2 separate regions of the Homo sapiens genome follow, and region 1 is linked to region 2. The links come from fine-mapping of genetic effects on gene expression. Tissue or cell type: whole blood. Region 2 holds a variant in brackets; the other region holds the start of a gene. All regions are shown on one strand. Distances are between the middles of the regions.

What was found. PIP is the estimated chance that this variant, and not a neighbour inherited with it, causes the effect.
Region 1: MST1 starts here. The variant in region 2 is fine-mapped to the expression of MST1 in whole blood (TOPMed, PIP above 0.99).

The regions. Positions count from the first base shown.
Region 1 is chr3:49,684,721-49,692,803 of GRCh38, reverse strand. MST1 (macrophage stimulating 1) reads left to right here and starts at 3,330. Exons shown (of 18, transcript NM_020998.4): 1 at 3,330-4,206; 2 at 4,907-5,054; 3 at 5,136-5,248; 4 at 5,326-5,440; 5 at 5,519-5,655; 6 at 5,737-5,857; 7 at 6,002-6,120; 8 at 6,323-6,491; 9 at 6,612-6,742; 10 at 6,842-6,944; 11 at 7,072-7,208; 12 at 7,298-7,333; 13 at 7,422-7,542; 14 at 7,715-7,792; 1 more. The coding sequence starts at 4,113. It overlaps RNF123 (ring finger protein 123), which reads right to left and starts at 3,247. Exons shown (of 39, transcript NM_022064.5): 1 at 3,198-3,247; 2 at 1,557-1,674; 3 at 1,295-1,379. The coding sequence starts at 1,638. RefSeq lists enhancers at 3,417-3,976, 5,493-6,206, 6,207-6,920 and a silencer at 5,819-5,938.
Region 2 is chr3:49,277,053-49,285,152 of GRCh38, reverse strand. C3orf62 (chromosome 3 open reading frame 62) reads left to right here and starts at 7,921. Exons shown (of 3, transcript NM_198562.3): 1 at 7,921-8,100. USP4 (ubiquitin specific peptidase 4) reads left to right here. Exons shown (of 22, transcript NM_003363.4): 17 at 234-304; 18 at 569-687; 19 at 1,017-1,166; 20 at 4,306-4,409; 21 at 6,251-6,339; 22 at 6,702-8,009. The coding sequence ends at 6,860. RefSeq lists a silencer at 7,898-8,097. The variant T/G (reference allele first, on the strand shown) is at 3,117.

The DNA.
Region 1 (8,083 bases), 410 kb before region 2:
ATCCTGTAATATGCAACAACATGGATGGAACTGGAGGTCATTATGTTAAATGAAATAAGCCAGGCAGAAAAAGACAAACATTGCATGTTATCACTTATTTGTGACAGCTAAAAATTAAAACAATTGAACTCATAGAGGCAAAGTACTGGATGGTTACCAGAGGCTTGGAAGGGTAGTATAGGGCTTGTGGGGAGATGGGGATGGCTAATGCGTACAAAAAAATTGAATTAATGAGACCTATCTGGTAGCAGAACAGAGTGACTATAGTAAATAATAATTGTACATTTAAAAATAACTAAAAGAGTATAACTAGATTGTTTATAAGACAAAAGATAAATGCTTGAGGGGATGGATACCCCATTTACCATGATGTGATTATTACGCATTGCATGCCTGTATCAAAGTATCTCATGTACCCTATAAATATATATACCTACTACATACCCACAAAAATTAAAAATTAAAAATGTAACACAAAGAAAGAAACAGAAAAGAATCACATTTGAATAGTCATGTTAAAATAACAAGATAGCAGGTGCTTTTCCTTCTTTTTTTAGAGACAGGGTCTTGCTCTGTCACCCAGGCTACAGTGCAGTGGCATGCAGAGGCCAACTCACTGCAGCCTCAACCTCCTAGGCTCAAGTGATCCTCCCACATCAGCCTCCCTAACAGCTGGGACTACAGGTGCACACCACCATGCCCAGGTAATTTCTGTATTTTATTGTAGAGATGGGGTCTTGCCATGTTGCTCAGGCTGGTCTTGAACTCCTGGACTCAAGCAATCTACCCACCTTGGCCTCCCAAAGTGCTGGGATTACAGGTGTGAACCACTGTGCCTGGCCCTCTAAGTTTCTGCTAAAATGTACTTGTAACTTTTATACTGACTACACTTAAAAGTATTAAACTTGTAAAGAAAAGGCCCTGGAGGAGTTTGTTCTTTACAAGGTCAGTCAGAAGCTACAAGGGGCCAGGCTGGGGCCAAGGTGAGGGCAGGTACATGCAGGGGCAGATGCTGGGTATGGAGTAGGTGCCAGGTGCTAGCTGGGCATGAATGTGCACCCGCTCCCTGACCTCTGCTCCCTGACTCTCAGAAGGAACTAGCACTGCCTGGAGACAGGAAGAAGCAGAGTACGGAAGGCAGACTCTCTGGCCAGAGATCTCGCAGCCAGGAGCACAGTGAGAACAGAGCCTAAGCCTATCTGTCCAGAGCCCAGGCTCCCTTTCCCTACAACTGCAGCCTCCTTATTCTGGTCTGGCCCAGCAGAGTGAGGAGGGGCCACCCACCCAGCCATACCTGCTGGTGGCTGCTGGGGGTGCATGTTCAGAAGAGGAAAAGATGCGGTTCAGGTAGTCATTCAGCAGCTTCTCCTGCACAATGCCTGAGCCACAAGTCAGAAGGGAGAAAAGGGCCACATGATCAGTGCAGCTCCTGGCCCCTGCTGGCCCCAGAGACTTCTGGTCCTAGGCCAGCCACAGGTGCAGCAAGGCCTGAGGCCTTTGTCCCTTCCTTCTCCTCCCAACAAGAGGAGCCTCCTTCCTTCCCTGCCAGCTCTTACCTGTGACCCTGGATTTCTCAGCATCTGAGGTCAGCCTATAGCTCTTGCGGGAGAAAGACATGCCGGCCCCCTTGGATGCCATCCTTCATCTCTCATGGGCAGCCAGTGGTCCTGGGGGCTGAGCCAGACACAGAGCCTGTCTACTCAGGGCCAGCCAGGGGCCCCCACACCTGACCTCAGTCCTGCCATGGCAGGAAGGCTTGGGAGCAGGTGAGGCCAGGGGCATGCACACTAACACATAGGGCAGGGGAATGCAGGGGCTCCCAGCTTCCTACACAGGGAGGGTAGCCAGGGTCTAGGCCCATGTAACAGGGACCACTTCTTGTTCTCCAGTGTCCCTGTGCCCAGCACAGGGCTGGGCAGAGAGCAGGTACTAGATATATTTTTGCCGAACCATAACAAAATGTCTCAGCTCTGTGGAAATCAGACCAAAATGTCCAAAGTGAGGTGTCCTAGGGGCAGAGCCCCTGTATCCATCTCAGTTGTAAGCCATACTGAGTCCAGCTCACAACCAGAAGCGACAATCCTACACATTCCCCCAAGTGCAGACCACCACTGGTCTGGTCATCTCTAGCCATAAGTCCCACTTACTCCCCACAAGGCTGGAGCCTCTTTCCTCAGCCCTGGGTTCCTCCCTTCTTTTATCCATGGTCCTGATAGTTTCACCATTCCCACTCACACATGTGGCCTCCCACCTCATCCAAGCACCACCCTTGCCCAGCCCTCATGGCAAACTCCATTGGTCCTCCTAGTGCATCTATCCCTCACATCATGTTGCTGCTGCAGCTGCTCCAGAACCTGCACTGAGTCCCTGGTGCTGGCCTCACTGATGTGTAGCGGTGCTGTCCAACACAGCAGCCGTCATCCACATGAGGTTACTTAAATTTAAAGTTTTAAAAATTAACAATTCGATTTCTCAGTTGCCTTAGCCACATTTCAAGAGTTCAATGACCACATGTGGCTAATGGTTACTCTGTTGGACAGCACAAAGGTAGAACGTTCCCACCATCATATAAAGTTCTATTAGACAGCGCAGGTCTAGAGTTTCGCTCTGCAGCACTGCCTTAGCCAGCACTCCCTACTCTGCAGTTCAGTCTCTTATCTCACCCCAAACAGACCCTCTACTCCCGCCACAAACCCTTGTGGGTCTGCACCACGCCTGCTCCTCGGGAAGGTGATTTTCCCGACCTCGGGCCCTCGGTGGGCGTCCATGATCGGTGCCCCTTCACTACCAGAGTAGTTGAAGATCTGATTAAACTCAGTCATTCATTTGATGAGCAGACCTTCCAGACACCCGGAGTGGGCTCCGGGAGTCAGTTGCTGAGGACCCAGGTGAGAGGCGGACCTTGTCCCCGCCCGGGGACTCCCTGTCACGGCTATCCCGTCCAACCCCGCCGGGGTATCCGGACTCAGAACTGAACCTACTCCGTCTGGGAGCCCAAGGACGGCGAGGGCGGCGCATGGCTCCCCCAAGTCGCCCCCGCCTGGCCCCAAGCTCCACAGGACCTGCCAGACCAGCTTCCGCTCGGAGTTTCGCACCCAGATCCCTGCGCTGCAGGTGCCCTCGCACTGGACTAGCCCGGACCGCGAAGGGAATAGCCGGAACCCGCCAGGCTCAGAGCCCTGCCGCCCCTCACTCACCCGGAGCCTCGGCCGCAGCGACCCGGCTCACAACATCCGCCCAACCTCTTGGCTACGGCGTCCGTTCAGGGCCAAATCACGCGCACGCTTGCGCGCTGAGCCTCCAGCCGCGCACGCGCACTGGCCCGCGCCCAGCCTCCGCTAGGGGACCCCCTCCATGGCTTCCCACCGGGTTGTTCCAGGCCTCAGCTTCGCCGAAAGGCCTCACCACCTCCGACCTCCGCCTGCTCTGGGGATGCTCCCAGCCCTGCTGCGGCAGAACGCGACATGCTAACCGGAATCCCTAGGCCGCCTGTCTCCTACCCATACTTAGAGGCCCCGCTCAGACGGTCCTTAAAACGTCTGAAAGGCCGTTCCTGCCAGAGTCCCTGCTACCTGTTACCTCCACCCCTATTTAGTCCTAGTGGACAGCCTCGCTCACCTTCCCTGGGATGACACTTCTGGCGGCTGAGATGAGCGAGCCTCTCTGGGCTCTGCCGCCGGGTGTGGGCTGACCTGCCTACAGCTGGGGCCTGATAAGGCAGCAGCAAAAGGGTGGAGGGGAGGCAGTGTTGAAGCTGGGGCAAGTAATTTTCCCCAATTTACAGGGAAAAACCGAAATTCAGAAAAGTTTAATGTCACCCAGGGGCTGGAGCCCAGACCTCTGGCAGCTCTCACTTTCACAATGCCCTTGGGCTGACTAGGCTGCAGAGGGGTTTCACCCCAACCCCAGGGCACCTCAAGTGTCCCCACCAAACCTTCCTAACACCTGTCCACTAAGCTGTACTAGGCCCTTGCAACTGACCTATGGGACCTGAGGCCTGGCCCCTCATGGCTCCTGTCACCAGGTCTCAGGTCAGGGTCCAGCAGGCCCTGAGCTGACGTGTGGAGCCAGAGCCACCCAATCCCGTAGGGACAGGTTTCACAACTTCCCGGATGGGGCTGTGGTGGGTCACAGTGCAGCCTCCAGCCAGAAGGATGGGGTGGCTCCCACTCCTGCTGCTTCTGACTCAATGCTTAGGGGTCCCTGGTAAGTGCCCCCAACCCTGATCCCCATCTGCCTTCAGGAGGGGGTTGGCCCCATTCTCCTATTCTAGGATGAGAAAAAAGTCGGGGAGCCAGAGGCTCAGTGGGCATGGGGCAGTGACCTTGCCCTCTTGAGCACAGCTGGGAAGCCCTAGGAACACATAGACATTGCCCACTTAGGCCTCTATTAGCACGTCTGCTCTAGCACTGAAGCAGTGTCAGGACCACACAGATGCACGCACACAGCAGGCAGTGACCCCTCCTGAGCCTGATCTACCCCTCTAACCTAGCATATGCCTTTGTGCAGGTGAGAGCCCAGATTTGGAGTCTGAATGCCTAGCCAGGGCCCCTGGCTGGGTAATGTGATGGCTCTGAGCCTTAGCATTCTCATTTGAGAGATGAGGTGGGGCAAGCTTCATCACCCACTGCTCTCACAGAGCGTATGTGTTAGATCTGAGCCCGGTGCCTGGGCCACTAAACAGAGGCACCGGTGATAACTACCAAGTCTGGGCCTGCTTCCCAGGGGAAATTTTTTTCACAAGTATCTGTGCAGGGGGCTAGACTGGCCCTTGAAAGTGCATACAGGGTCCATCCCAGAAGCCTTGTAGCTTTGATCCCCTGAATGAACAAAGTGTGGACATGCCAATACACATTACTGACATGTATGCCCACCTGACCTGCACCCACTCATGCCTACTCTGCAGGGCAGCGCTCGCCATTGAATGACTTCCAAGTGCTCCGGGGCACAGAGCTACAGCACCTGCTACATGCGGTGGTGCCCGGGCCTTGGCAGGAGGATGTGGCAGATGCTGAAGAGTGTGCTGGTCGCTGTGGGCCCTTAATGGACTGCCGGTGAGTGGCCACTGGGCCTAGATAAGACTGGGGGCAGGGAAGCCTGGGCTGTGGCGTTACCCTGTGCCTTCTTCTCTCCAGGGCCTTCCACTACAACGTGAGCAGCCATGGTTGCCAACTGCTGCCATGGACTCAACACTCGCCCCACACGAGGCTGCGGCGTTCTGGGCGCTGTGACCTCTTCCAGAAGAAAGGCAAGTGGGGGTGGAGAGGGGCAGGGTGGGAGACAGGGGACCTCAGCCCAAGTTGATCTTCTGTCTCTTGCTCCCAGACTACGTACGGACCTGCATCATGAACAATGGGGTTGGGTACCGGGGCACCATGGCCACGACCGTGGGTGGCCTGCCCTGCCAGGCTTGGAGCCACAAGTTCCCAAATGATCACAAGTGAGACAAACACCTTCCCTCCGTCCCGGCCTGGGGCCTTCCCCCAGCACACACTATAGTGATGCTCTGGGCCCTCAGGTACACGCCCACTCTCCGGAATGGCCTGGAAGAGAACTTCTGCCGTAACCCTGATGGCGACCCCGGAGGTCCTTGGTGCTACACAACAGACCCTGCTGTGCGCTTCCAGAGCTGCGGCATCAAATCCTGCCGGGAGGGTAAGCGGCGCCGGGTCAAGCTGGGAGAGTGGAGGGACAAGCCCACGTCCATCCACGAACCCACTGGCTCTTTGTCTCCAGCCGCGTGTGTCTGGTGCAATGGCGAGGAATACCGCGGCGCGGTAGACCGCACGGAGTCAGGGCGCGAGTGCCAGCGCTGGGATCTTCAGCACCCGCACCAGCACCCCTTCGAGCCGGGCAAGTACGCGTAGGCGGTATCGGCGTCCTGGGGGCCGGGCTAGGGAAGGTCCAGGACTCCAGGGGCAGGGCTCCGTGTAGGGCAATTGGGCGGGGCCAGATAAGCCAGAGTCCCAGGGTCTTGTTCACGCCCCATTACCGCCCCCAGGTTCCTCGACCAAGGTCTGGACGACAACTATTGCCGGAATCCTGACGGCTCCGAGCGGCCATGGTGCTACACTACGGATCCGCAGATCGAGCGAGAGTTCTGTGACCTCCCCCGCTGCGGTAGGCGGCGGGGACCAGGCCTGGGAGGGTACCTGGGAACCTTGGGGAGGGGCGTGGCTTGGCCGGGGAGGTAAGAGGGGCTGGGCGTGACCTGAGAGCATACCCCGTGGAGTACCGTACACCTGGGAAAGGCGGGTTTGGTCCCAGCCCCAGAGGGATCTCAGCTCTCGCTCGGGGCCCGACCTATCTCGGTCCATCTAAGGGTCCGAGGCACAGCCCCGCCAAGAGGCCACAACTGTCAGCTGCTTCCGCGGGAAGGGTGAGGGCTACCGGGGCACAGCCAATACCACCACTGCGGGCGTACCTTGCCAGCGTTGGGACGCGCAAATCCCGCATCAGCACCGATTTACGCCAGAAAAATACGCGTGCAAGTGAGGTGGGGGGGGGGGGCGGGCGTTGGGACGTGCTGCTGCGGGTGAGACGGGAGGAAGGTAGTCACGGGCTCAAGGCTGGAGGCTGGCGGGCTAGGGCTGAGTGGAGCGCCTGCTTAGAGACCTTCGGGAGAACTTCTGCCGGAACCCCGACGGCTCAGAGGCGCCCTGGTGCTTCACACTGCGGCCCGGCATGCGCGCGGCCTTTTGCTACCAGATCCGGCGTTGTACAGACGACGTGCGGCCCCAGGGTGAGGCCCAAGCTTGGGGGCTACAGAGCCGGGCTGGAAGCCTGGAACCGGAGGGCCGGGGCGAGGTCTCGGCCTGATGGCTGCCCGCACCCGCCACAGACTGCTACCACGGCGCAGGGGAGCAGTACCGCGGCACGGTCAGCAAGACCCGCAAGGGTGTCCAGTGCCAGCGCTGGTCCGCTGAGACGCCGCACAAGCCGCAGTGAGTCCCTGGTGCTCCCGGCCCCGCCAGGGCCCTAACCCTGGGGCGGCATGCTTTGGTGTCTGGGACCAGAGCCTGGAAATGGTTGAGACTACCCTGCCACGATTTTGCTCCCGCTTCCGCCTAGGTTCACGTTTACCTCCGAACCGCATGCACAACTGGAGGAGAACTTCTGCCGGAACCCAGATGGGGATAGCCATGGGCCCTGGTGCTACACGATGGACCCAAGGACCCCATTCGACTACTGTGCCCTGCGACGCTGCGGTGAGCACTAGTGACGCTTCCCCCATGACCCTGCCTCAGCCCCCACCCAAAGGCTGGCTCCCTTAACCCCAGTGAACTTTGTCTTTCAGCTGATGACCAGCCGCCATCAATCCTGGACCCCCCAGGTTAGGAGTTGGGCCAGTTATGGGTCAGGCCCTTTAGCCCACGACATCCACACAGTCTGGGTTTCATCCAGCCCACCCCATCCTACAGACCAGGTGCAGTTTGAGAAGTGTGGCAAGAGGGTGGATCGGCTGGATCAGCGGCGTTCCAAGCTGCGCGTGGTTGGGGGCCATCCGGGCAACTCACCCTGGACAGTCAGCTTGCGGAATCGGTGAGGCACAACTGCCTGTCTCCCACAGAGAGGAGCTGAGGTTGTGTCCTCTGTGGTTATCCCACTGGGGGCTGGGAATCTATCCCTGCCCCCAGAGGTCCTAGCCAGAAGATGGCAGGTCTAGCATCTGTCCCAGGAGTCTGTTACCTGTCCTAATTCCCCACTCCTCTAGGCAGGGCCAGCATTTCTGCGGGGGGTCTCTAGTGAAGGAGCAGTGGATACTGACTGCCCGGCAGTGCTTCTCCTCCTGGTGAGCCTCCCTTGTGTTTGGGGACCCAGTCTCATCCCACCTTCCCCCTTCCCCAGGCAAGCTAACAAGTGAGCCTTGGGGCAATGGACTGAGAGTCACAAATGACCTAGCAGAGCTTCTCTCCCAGCCATATGCCTCTCACGGGCTATGAGGTATGGTTGGGCACCCTGTTCCAGAACCCACAGCATGGAGAGCCAAGCCTACAGCGGGTCCCAGTAGCCAAGATGGTGTGTGGGCCCTCAGGCTCCCAGCTTGTCCTGCTCAAGCTGGAGAGGTATGTGGACAACCTGG
Region 2 (8,100 bases):
TTAGTTCCTTCGTAGCTTATCTGTATCACTGAGGAAGTCTTTGCCAAAGGCTTTTTGGGGCTGGGGGTCAGAAGGGCTGGCCCATTGCAGAGCATTGCTCTTGACACTGGCTGCTGATGGGGGAGAAGGTGTTGATGGTGTGGCCTGAGTGTGGTCCTTCTCACTCCTGTCACTTGGAGAGCCTTTCCTGTTGCTTGCCATTCCATAACAAGTGACATTTTGGTCCTCCTCAGCTCGATCTACACTGGCCATGGATTGGGACAGTGAAACTCGGAGACTTTACTATGATGAGCAAGAATCTGAGGTAGGTCCCTCGGGGTTCGTGGTCGGTGGTGTCTGCTGGTTTCTGCTCTGGATGTGGACTGCGATCACTTTCACCAGTTGGACAGCAATTTAGCAAGTTATATTTAAGACTGAGAAGGAAAAGCACTTCAAGATTTTGTCATTTTATATTCAGAGGCTCTAGAAAGTGTACTACATTCCAGGTGGGAGAGCCTCTGTAGGCCTTCATGTCTTAATGCAGTAAGATCTCTTTCTCCAGCAGAACTGAGTGCTTTGATTCCCATAGGCCTACGAGAAGCATGTGAGCATGTTGCAGCCTCAGAAGAAGAAGAAGACCACAGTGGCCCTGAGAGACTGCATCGAGCTCTTCACCACCATGGAGACCCTTGGGGAGCATGACCCCTGGTACGCAGCTCCTCACTGTCTGGGCAGAGGCCCCATGCACCCCAGGACTCAGATCTGCTAGGGCCATCTGTGCACATAAACCCCTTTGTATTTGGATGTGTCACTTCTTTATATAGCTAACCCTACAACATAATCCTCTGTGAGTTGAGGTTTCCAAGGAAAGCCGTCACCCCATTTTGGAAGACAGGTCCCTGGCCAGAAGCAGTAGTGTTGAGTGCTGACCGAGAGGATGGCAGCTATCAGGGGACTGCAGCTGTGCCTCCATGCATGAGTGCCCAGGTGGCACTGGCTGCCGGCTTGCCCTGCTAAGTGGAGGTTTCTCTTTTTAGGTACTGTCCCAACTGTAAGAAGCATCAACAGGCCACAAAAAAGTTTGACCTATGGTCCTTGCCCAAGATCCTGGTGGTCCACCTCAAACGTTTCTCCTACAACAGATACTGGAGGGATAAGCTCGACACAGTCGTAGAATTCCCAATCAGGTGGGTCATGGTGACTACAGTGTTAGGAACATTTAAAAACAGGCAGAAAATCTTGGCACTGATTGGCTGAGTGGTTTGCCACCAAAAACTTTTCTGAGTAAGGATGTGTGTTGCCGGGGTCTAGGAGGTCAGAGTTTAGCTGTAGTTACCCCTTCTGTCCCTATCCTCCCATCTTTGGGGAAGAGACTCTCCAGTGGAAGCATTTGCCCAGACACAGGCTGCTGCCAGTCACCCCTGCCACTGCTAGTTTCCCTCTCGAGTCACTTAGGCCACCTAACTGGCCTTCCTGTCCATCATCTGTCACAGGTAGCCTCACCTTAGCAGAGGCAGCACAACAGGGGACAAGGCAACCAAGAATAGCCTGTCAGGTAGAGTTGGGTTATTATTGGGGGCTGCAGGTGGGCTGCACACCTGCCATGATCCTGTCCCTGGGGTAGGGATTGGGACTGGCTGTCTACTCATATCCTCTCAAGCCCCACAGTACAGACTGTAACTAAGAACAGGAAAGTAAGTTAACAGATAGATGTTCCCTGGCTGGGCACAGTGGCTCACATATCATCAATTTGGGAGGCCAAGGTGGGAGGATCACTTGAGCCTAGGAGTTCAAAACCAGCCTGGACAACATAGAGAGACTTCCTCTCTACAAAAAATAAAAAATATATTTAAAAAAATAGGCTGGGCACGGTGGCTCATGCTTGTAATCCCAGCACTTTGGGAGGCCAAGGTGGGCAGATCACAAGGTCTGGAGATCGAGACCATCCTGGCCAACATGGTGAAACCCCATCTCTACTAAAAATGCAAAAGTTAGCTGGATGTGGTGGCGCACACCTGTGGTCCCAGCTACTCAGGAGGCTGAGGCAGGAAAATCGCCTGAACCTAGGAGGCAAAAGTTGCAGTGAGCCAAGATTGCACCACTGCACTCCAGCCTGGTGACAGAGCGAGACTCTATCTCAAAAAAAAAAAAAAAAAAAAAAAAAAGAGGCCGGCACAGTGGCTCACACCTGTAATCCCAGCACTGTGGGAGGCCAAGGTGGGTGGATCACTTGAGATCAGGAGCCGGAGAGTAGCCTGGCCAACATGGTGAAATCCTGTCTCCAGTAAAACTACAAAAATTAGCTGGATGTGGTGGTGCACGCCTGTAATCCCAGCTACTAGGGAGGCTGAGGCAGGAGAATTGCTTGAACCCACTAGGCGGAGGTTGCAGTGAGCCAAGATTGTGCCACTGCACTCCAGCCTCAGCAACAGAGCAAGCCCCTGTTTCCAAAAAAAGAAAAAAAAAAGGGAGTTGCCCACAAAATGTAGATTTTAAAATGCTTTCTGGGGGAAAGAATAGATACATGAAGTATAGCATGTCAGCAGGAGACGCCAGGTGATGGATAATAAGTATTTGTTGTAAAAATTCTTTATCTTGGCTGGGCGCAGTGGCTCACACCTGTAATCCCAGCACTTTGGGAGGCTGAGGTGGGCAAATTACGAGGTCAGGAGTTTGAGACCAGCCTGACCAACATGGTGAAACCCCATCTCTACTAAAAGTACAAAACAAAATTAGCTAGGCATGGTGGCGCATGCCTGTAATCCCTGCTACTTGGGAGGCTGAGGCAGGAGAATCACTTGAACCCAAGAGGCAGAGGTTGCAGTGAGTCAAGATCGCGCCACTGCACTCCAGCCCGGACGACACAGCGAGACTCCGTCTCAAAAAAAAAAAAATTCTTTATCTTTTCTGTGTGTTTGAAAATTTTTAAATAAAATATTGGAGGAAGAAAGCTTTCTGGGGCCTGTTTTGGTTGAGTTTAAATTATTATGGCACCAACTGTAATTCTGTTAAGAACAGCCATTTCTGCATACTTGCTGAAGCCCTCTGTGTGTATCTCTAGACCCTCATCACCATTTTGTCTGGTGCTGGAGTTACCCAGAAAGGTTCTCCCATTTTCTTTTGTTGTTGTTGTTGTT[T/G]TTTTTGTTTTGTTTTTGTTTTTTTTTGAGACCGTGTCTCACTCTGTCGCCAGGCCAGAGTGCAGTGGTGCGATCTCGGCTCACTACAACCTCTGCCTCCTGGGTTCAAGCAATTCTCCTGCCTCAGCCTCCTGAGTAGCTGGGACTACAGGCGCCTGCCACCATACCCAGCTAATTTTTGTATTTTTAGTAGAGACGGGGTTTTACCATGTTGGCCAGGATGGTCTCAAACTCCTGACCTCATGATCCACCCACCTTGGCCTCCCAAAGTGCTGGGATTACAGGCATGAGCCACTGTGCCCGGCCTTTTTTTTTTTTTTTTGAGACGGAGTTACGCTCTTGTTGCCCAGGCTGAAGTGCAATGGCACGATCTCGGCTCACTGCAAACTCTGCCTCCCAGGATCAATCGATTCTCCTACCTCAGCCTCCCAAGTAGCTAGGATTACAGGTGTGTGCCACCATGCCCGGCTAATTTGTGTGTGTGTGTATATATAAATGTATATATGTGTGTGTGTGTGTGTGTGTGTGTGTGTGTGTGTGTGTGTATATATATATATATACACATACTTTTTTTCTTTTTTGAGACGGAGTCTCGCTCTGTTGCCCAGGCTGGACTGCAGTAGTGCGATCTTGGCTCACTGCAAGCTCCACCTCCCGGGTTCACGCCATTCTCCTGCCTCAGCCTCCCGAGTAGCTGGGACTACAGGCGCCCACCACCACGCCCAGCTAATTTTTGTATTTTTTAGTAGAGACAGGGTTTCACCGTGTTAGCCAGGATGGTCTCAATCTTCTGATCTCGTGATCCGCCTGCCTTGGCCTCCGAAAGTGCTGGGATTACAGGTGTGAGCCACCGTGCGCGGCCTAATTTTTGTATTTTTAGCAGAGACGGGATTTCACCATGTTGGTCGGGCTCGTCTCGAACTCCTGATCTCAGGTGATCCACCTGCCTTGGCCCCCCAAAGTGCTGGGATTACAGGCATGAGCCACCACACCCAGCCCCATTTTCTAGCCTGAATATGTCAGTGGTCAGAACATGGATCCTAGAGTCCCTTCCATCTTGGTCTCTCTCGAATAGTTTGAGTGCCTCCCTGTGTTCTGCCCTGTTGCATAACAGAGGTTGCTGGGTTACTCTTAACTACTTTGTTTGGGTTTAACATATTCAATAACTATTTTTGTGTTTTGTGCTCAGAGGGCTGAACATGTCCGAGTTTGTCTGTAACCTGTCAGCAAGGCCTTATGTGTACGACCTCATTGCCGTGTCCAATCATTATGGAGCCATGGGGGTTGGCCACTGTAAGTATTGACATCTGCTTCCTTCTGAGATGTTGAAATGTGCTCGGCCATCATCTCTCACCAGTGGACCAGGCATTGCCCTAAATGCTTTGCTTATGCAGTTTCACAGGCTTCATGCTGCACGCTTTCTTCATACTGATTCCCCTCTCTGTTTTTTTTTAATTCTTTTTTTTTTTTTTTTTTTGAGACGGAGTCTCGTTATGTCACCCAGGCTAGAACACAGTGGCGCAATCTCACTCACTGCAAGCTCTGCCTCCCAGGTTCACGCCATTCTCCTGCCTCAGCCTCCTGAGTAGCTGGGACTACAGGCGCCCGCCACCACGCCTGGCTAATTTTTTGTATTTTTAGTAGAGACGGGGTTTCACCATGTTAGCCAGGATGGTCTCGATCTCCTGACCTCGTGATCCGCCCGCCTCGGCCTCCCAAAGTGCTGGGATTACAGGTGTGAGGCACTGTGCCTGGCTGGTTTGCTCTTTTTTTGAGACAGATTCTCACTCTGTCACCCAGGCTGGAAAGCAGTGGCGCAGTCTCGGCTCACTTGCAACCTCCACCTCCCGGGTTCAAGCGATTCTCGTGCCTCAGCCTGCCGAGTAGCTGGGATTACAGGTGTGCGCCACCACACCTGGCTAATTTTTGTATTTTTAGTAGAGACAGGGTTTTGGCATGTTGCCCAGGCTGGTCTTGAACTCCTGGGCTCAAGCGAACCACCCTGCCTTGGCCTCCCAAAGTGTTGGGATCACAGGTGTGAGTCACCGTGCCCTGCCTGTGTTCATTTTTATTTGCTAATTTTTGCACACAAACATACCATTTGGGCAAGTTTCTCATCCTCAGTTTTCTCATCCATGAGGTTAGGCTGGTTGTGTGAGGGTCCACATTGGGCCTACAGTTGGAACTTCAAAATTGAAAGCCACCGTTGCTGCTATTGTGTCAAGCACAGACTGTGTGAACTGGCCTTGGGCACCTTCTCTGTTGCCCTTTCCCATGATCCTCACCACCACTTTGTGCAGTCAATGCTATAGTGAGGAAACTGAGGCTGAAGTGTTAAACACCTTACCTAAAACCACACAGTAAGTTGACACTGGATATCAGATCTCCATTGGGTTCTGTAGTTTCTGAGAGTCTGGGTGGAGCAGGAACTGGGCTGGGATTGCTGTAATAAACACATCCTGCTTGGGAATAGTGTAAAGTCAAGACAAGAAGCATTGCCTCTGGGAAATGCTTGAATCATTGTGGGAAACTGTTACCTAACCACAGACTCTGGACTCCTAGTTTTAGAGAAAGATAAATTTTTTTTTTTTTGGATATGGAGACTAAGGTATGTTGTTCACATCCCAGCTCTGCAAACCCAAACACCCAATGTTCCTCTAACTGGGATTATTCTGTAGGCTCCCGAGGCACTAAGCATTCTGTTGATGTTAGTAGCCACCTGCCTAGATGCAATGGGGGAGACTGACTTGGCATGTCCTTGTGAGAGCTATTGTTTTGCTTAAATCTTAGAAGTTTCAGCTCCTTTTATGGGTTCCCTGGTTTTGGATTATTGCACATAGCCATCCTGAAGATTGGCACTGAATAGCTCTGTTTTTTCTATTAGTTTCCCAAAATTATAGTTTAAAATCTTGGTCCCTGACAGCTCCATTTTTAGCCTTTTGATCCTTTTTGAGAAGGAACAGATTAGAAAAGAAGGTGAGTTGTTTTTTGGTTGTTAAGACACACACTGTAAACTTTTTTAATTTCAGGGGTTTTGTTTTGGGGATTTTTGTGTTTATTTAGTGCAAGCCTAATAAGCTAGCCAGATTAATTCTCTGGAGACCGCTAGAGTATTTTCTTTGTTGACTTGGCAGACACTGCATATGCGAAGAACAAACTGAATGGTAAATGGTATTACTTTGATGATAGCAACGTGTCCCTGGCCTCTGAGGATCAGATAGTGGTGAGTAGGCCATGATATGTGGTTCTTCCTCATGTCGTTATGGATTAAAGCTGGGAAGAGCCTCTATCAGGCTAGTTGGTTATTTCATCATCCTGATGTGATAGTGGGAGCTAGGTGTGACAGAGCTGGCTGGCATTCCTTCAGGGACCTTCATAAATGAGAAGCTCAGCTCTCCTCAGAGTTCTCTGCACAAGGCTCCTTCCATTTCCTGCTGCCTGGCAGGGGCAGCCATCCTCAGGTGGAAGGGTCTCCTCTGTGTGGATATGGCAGATCCTTGAGGGTTTTGGACAGCTAGAGAAAAGCTGGGGAAAATGGGTGATTTTTCCAAGCACTGAATGGTCTTTCCCCCTCTTGTATTTCAGACTAAAGCAGCTTATGTGCTATTTTACCAACGTCGAGATGATGAATTTTATAAGACACCTTCACTTAGCAGTTCTGGTTCCTCTGATGGAGGGACACGACCAAGCAGCTCTCAGCAGGGCTTTGGGGATGATGAGGCTTGCAGCATGGACACCAACTAATGCTGACTCCACGATCCTGCCACCCTGTAGCGCCAGTGTAATCCCCCAGGAGAACATCTTTGACACTCTGCAGACTGCTAGTGTTCTGTCTAAAAACCAGACAAGGAAATACCCTTCTTTTATGAGCAGAAGGAAACAAAAAAAAAAAAAGAAGACCGTTTACCTAGAAGAAGCTATGTCAAGAGGCTGAATTATTTTTATTTTTAAACAGGTGGTGAGAAATTTCTGTGAAACCTGTGAAGCTGAAAAGGGGGTGGGATGGGGGTACTCAATGGAGTATGTCTGATGGATCCCGAAGAATGGAGAGGAACACAGGCGCTGAGTATGGAGCAGCCTGGAGACCCACCCCACCTGCAGGGCTGCCCTGAGCGCCTGGATTTCTGGTTCTGATGCCAATACTAGTCACCCCAAGTAGTCTGCTCACAGTAACCCAAACCTCAAGTAAACTCCCCTTTCCCTCGCTATGTGCACTGATATGGGTTTATAATTTTCTGAAAGTTACCCACTGAAGCCCATTTCTCCGTTGAGTCATCTTGTAATTTCCAGCTTTCTCCCCGCTAAGGAAGATATCTAGTGTTGGGGATCCTGGCCCCTCAACCTCCTGTGGAACCCAGCAGTTCTGTTATATCCCCTGCTACCCTAGATGAATTAAGACGGTTAAATACTGTGTGGAACTTTTATTAGATAACACACTTTTTATTAGATAACGCTTAAAGGAAGTCAGTACATAAAACTGCCCGGTGCTGTGTCCCGTCTAGTTGTTTCCATGTTGGCTTGAGAACAGAAATCTTTGTGGGAGTTAGCCGGGAAAGGGCTCCAGTTCATGGCGATTTAGGGTAGTAATACATTTTGGTGTTACCCAGATGCTTTCTAGAACGGGTTCTTTCCTCATCCCTGCCAAGACTCTTCCCGGGGCCCCCATTCGAAAGCCCCGTCCCCACTCCCACCGCGGGGCCAGCCGCTGCGTGTGGGCAAGGCCTTAAGGAACCGGACGTATGGGTCCGGGATTTTTTGTCTGACCTTCAACCTAATCCGTGGGGGTTTGGGGCCTGCGCGGGGCACGCGCATGCGATGACCGTTGGATGGGTCGGCGTCACTGCGCTGCGGGTGAGGACAAGGACGTGGCTGCCGACTCGCCAAAGGGGGGGTGCCGGTAGGGCCAGCGGCCTGGGAGCCGCGGTGGGGCGGGAGGCAGCGGCGGGGCGGGCCAGGAAGCTGTGGGAAGTGGGGCGGGGCGTCT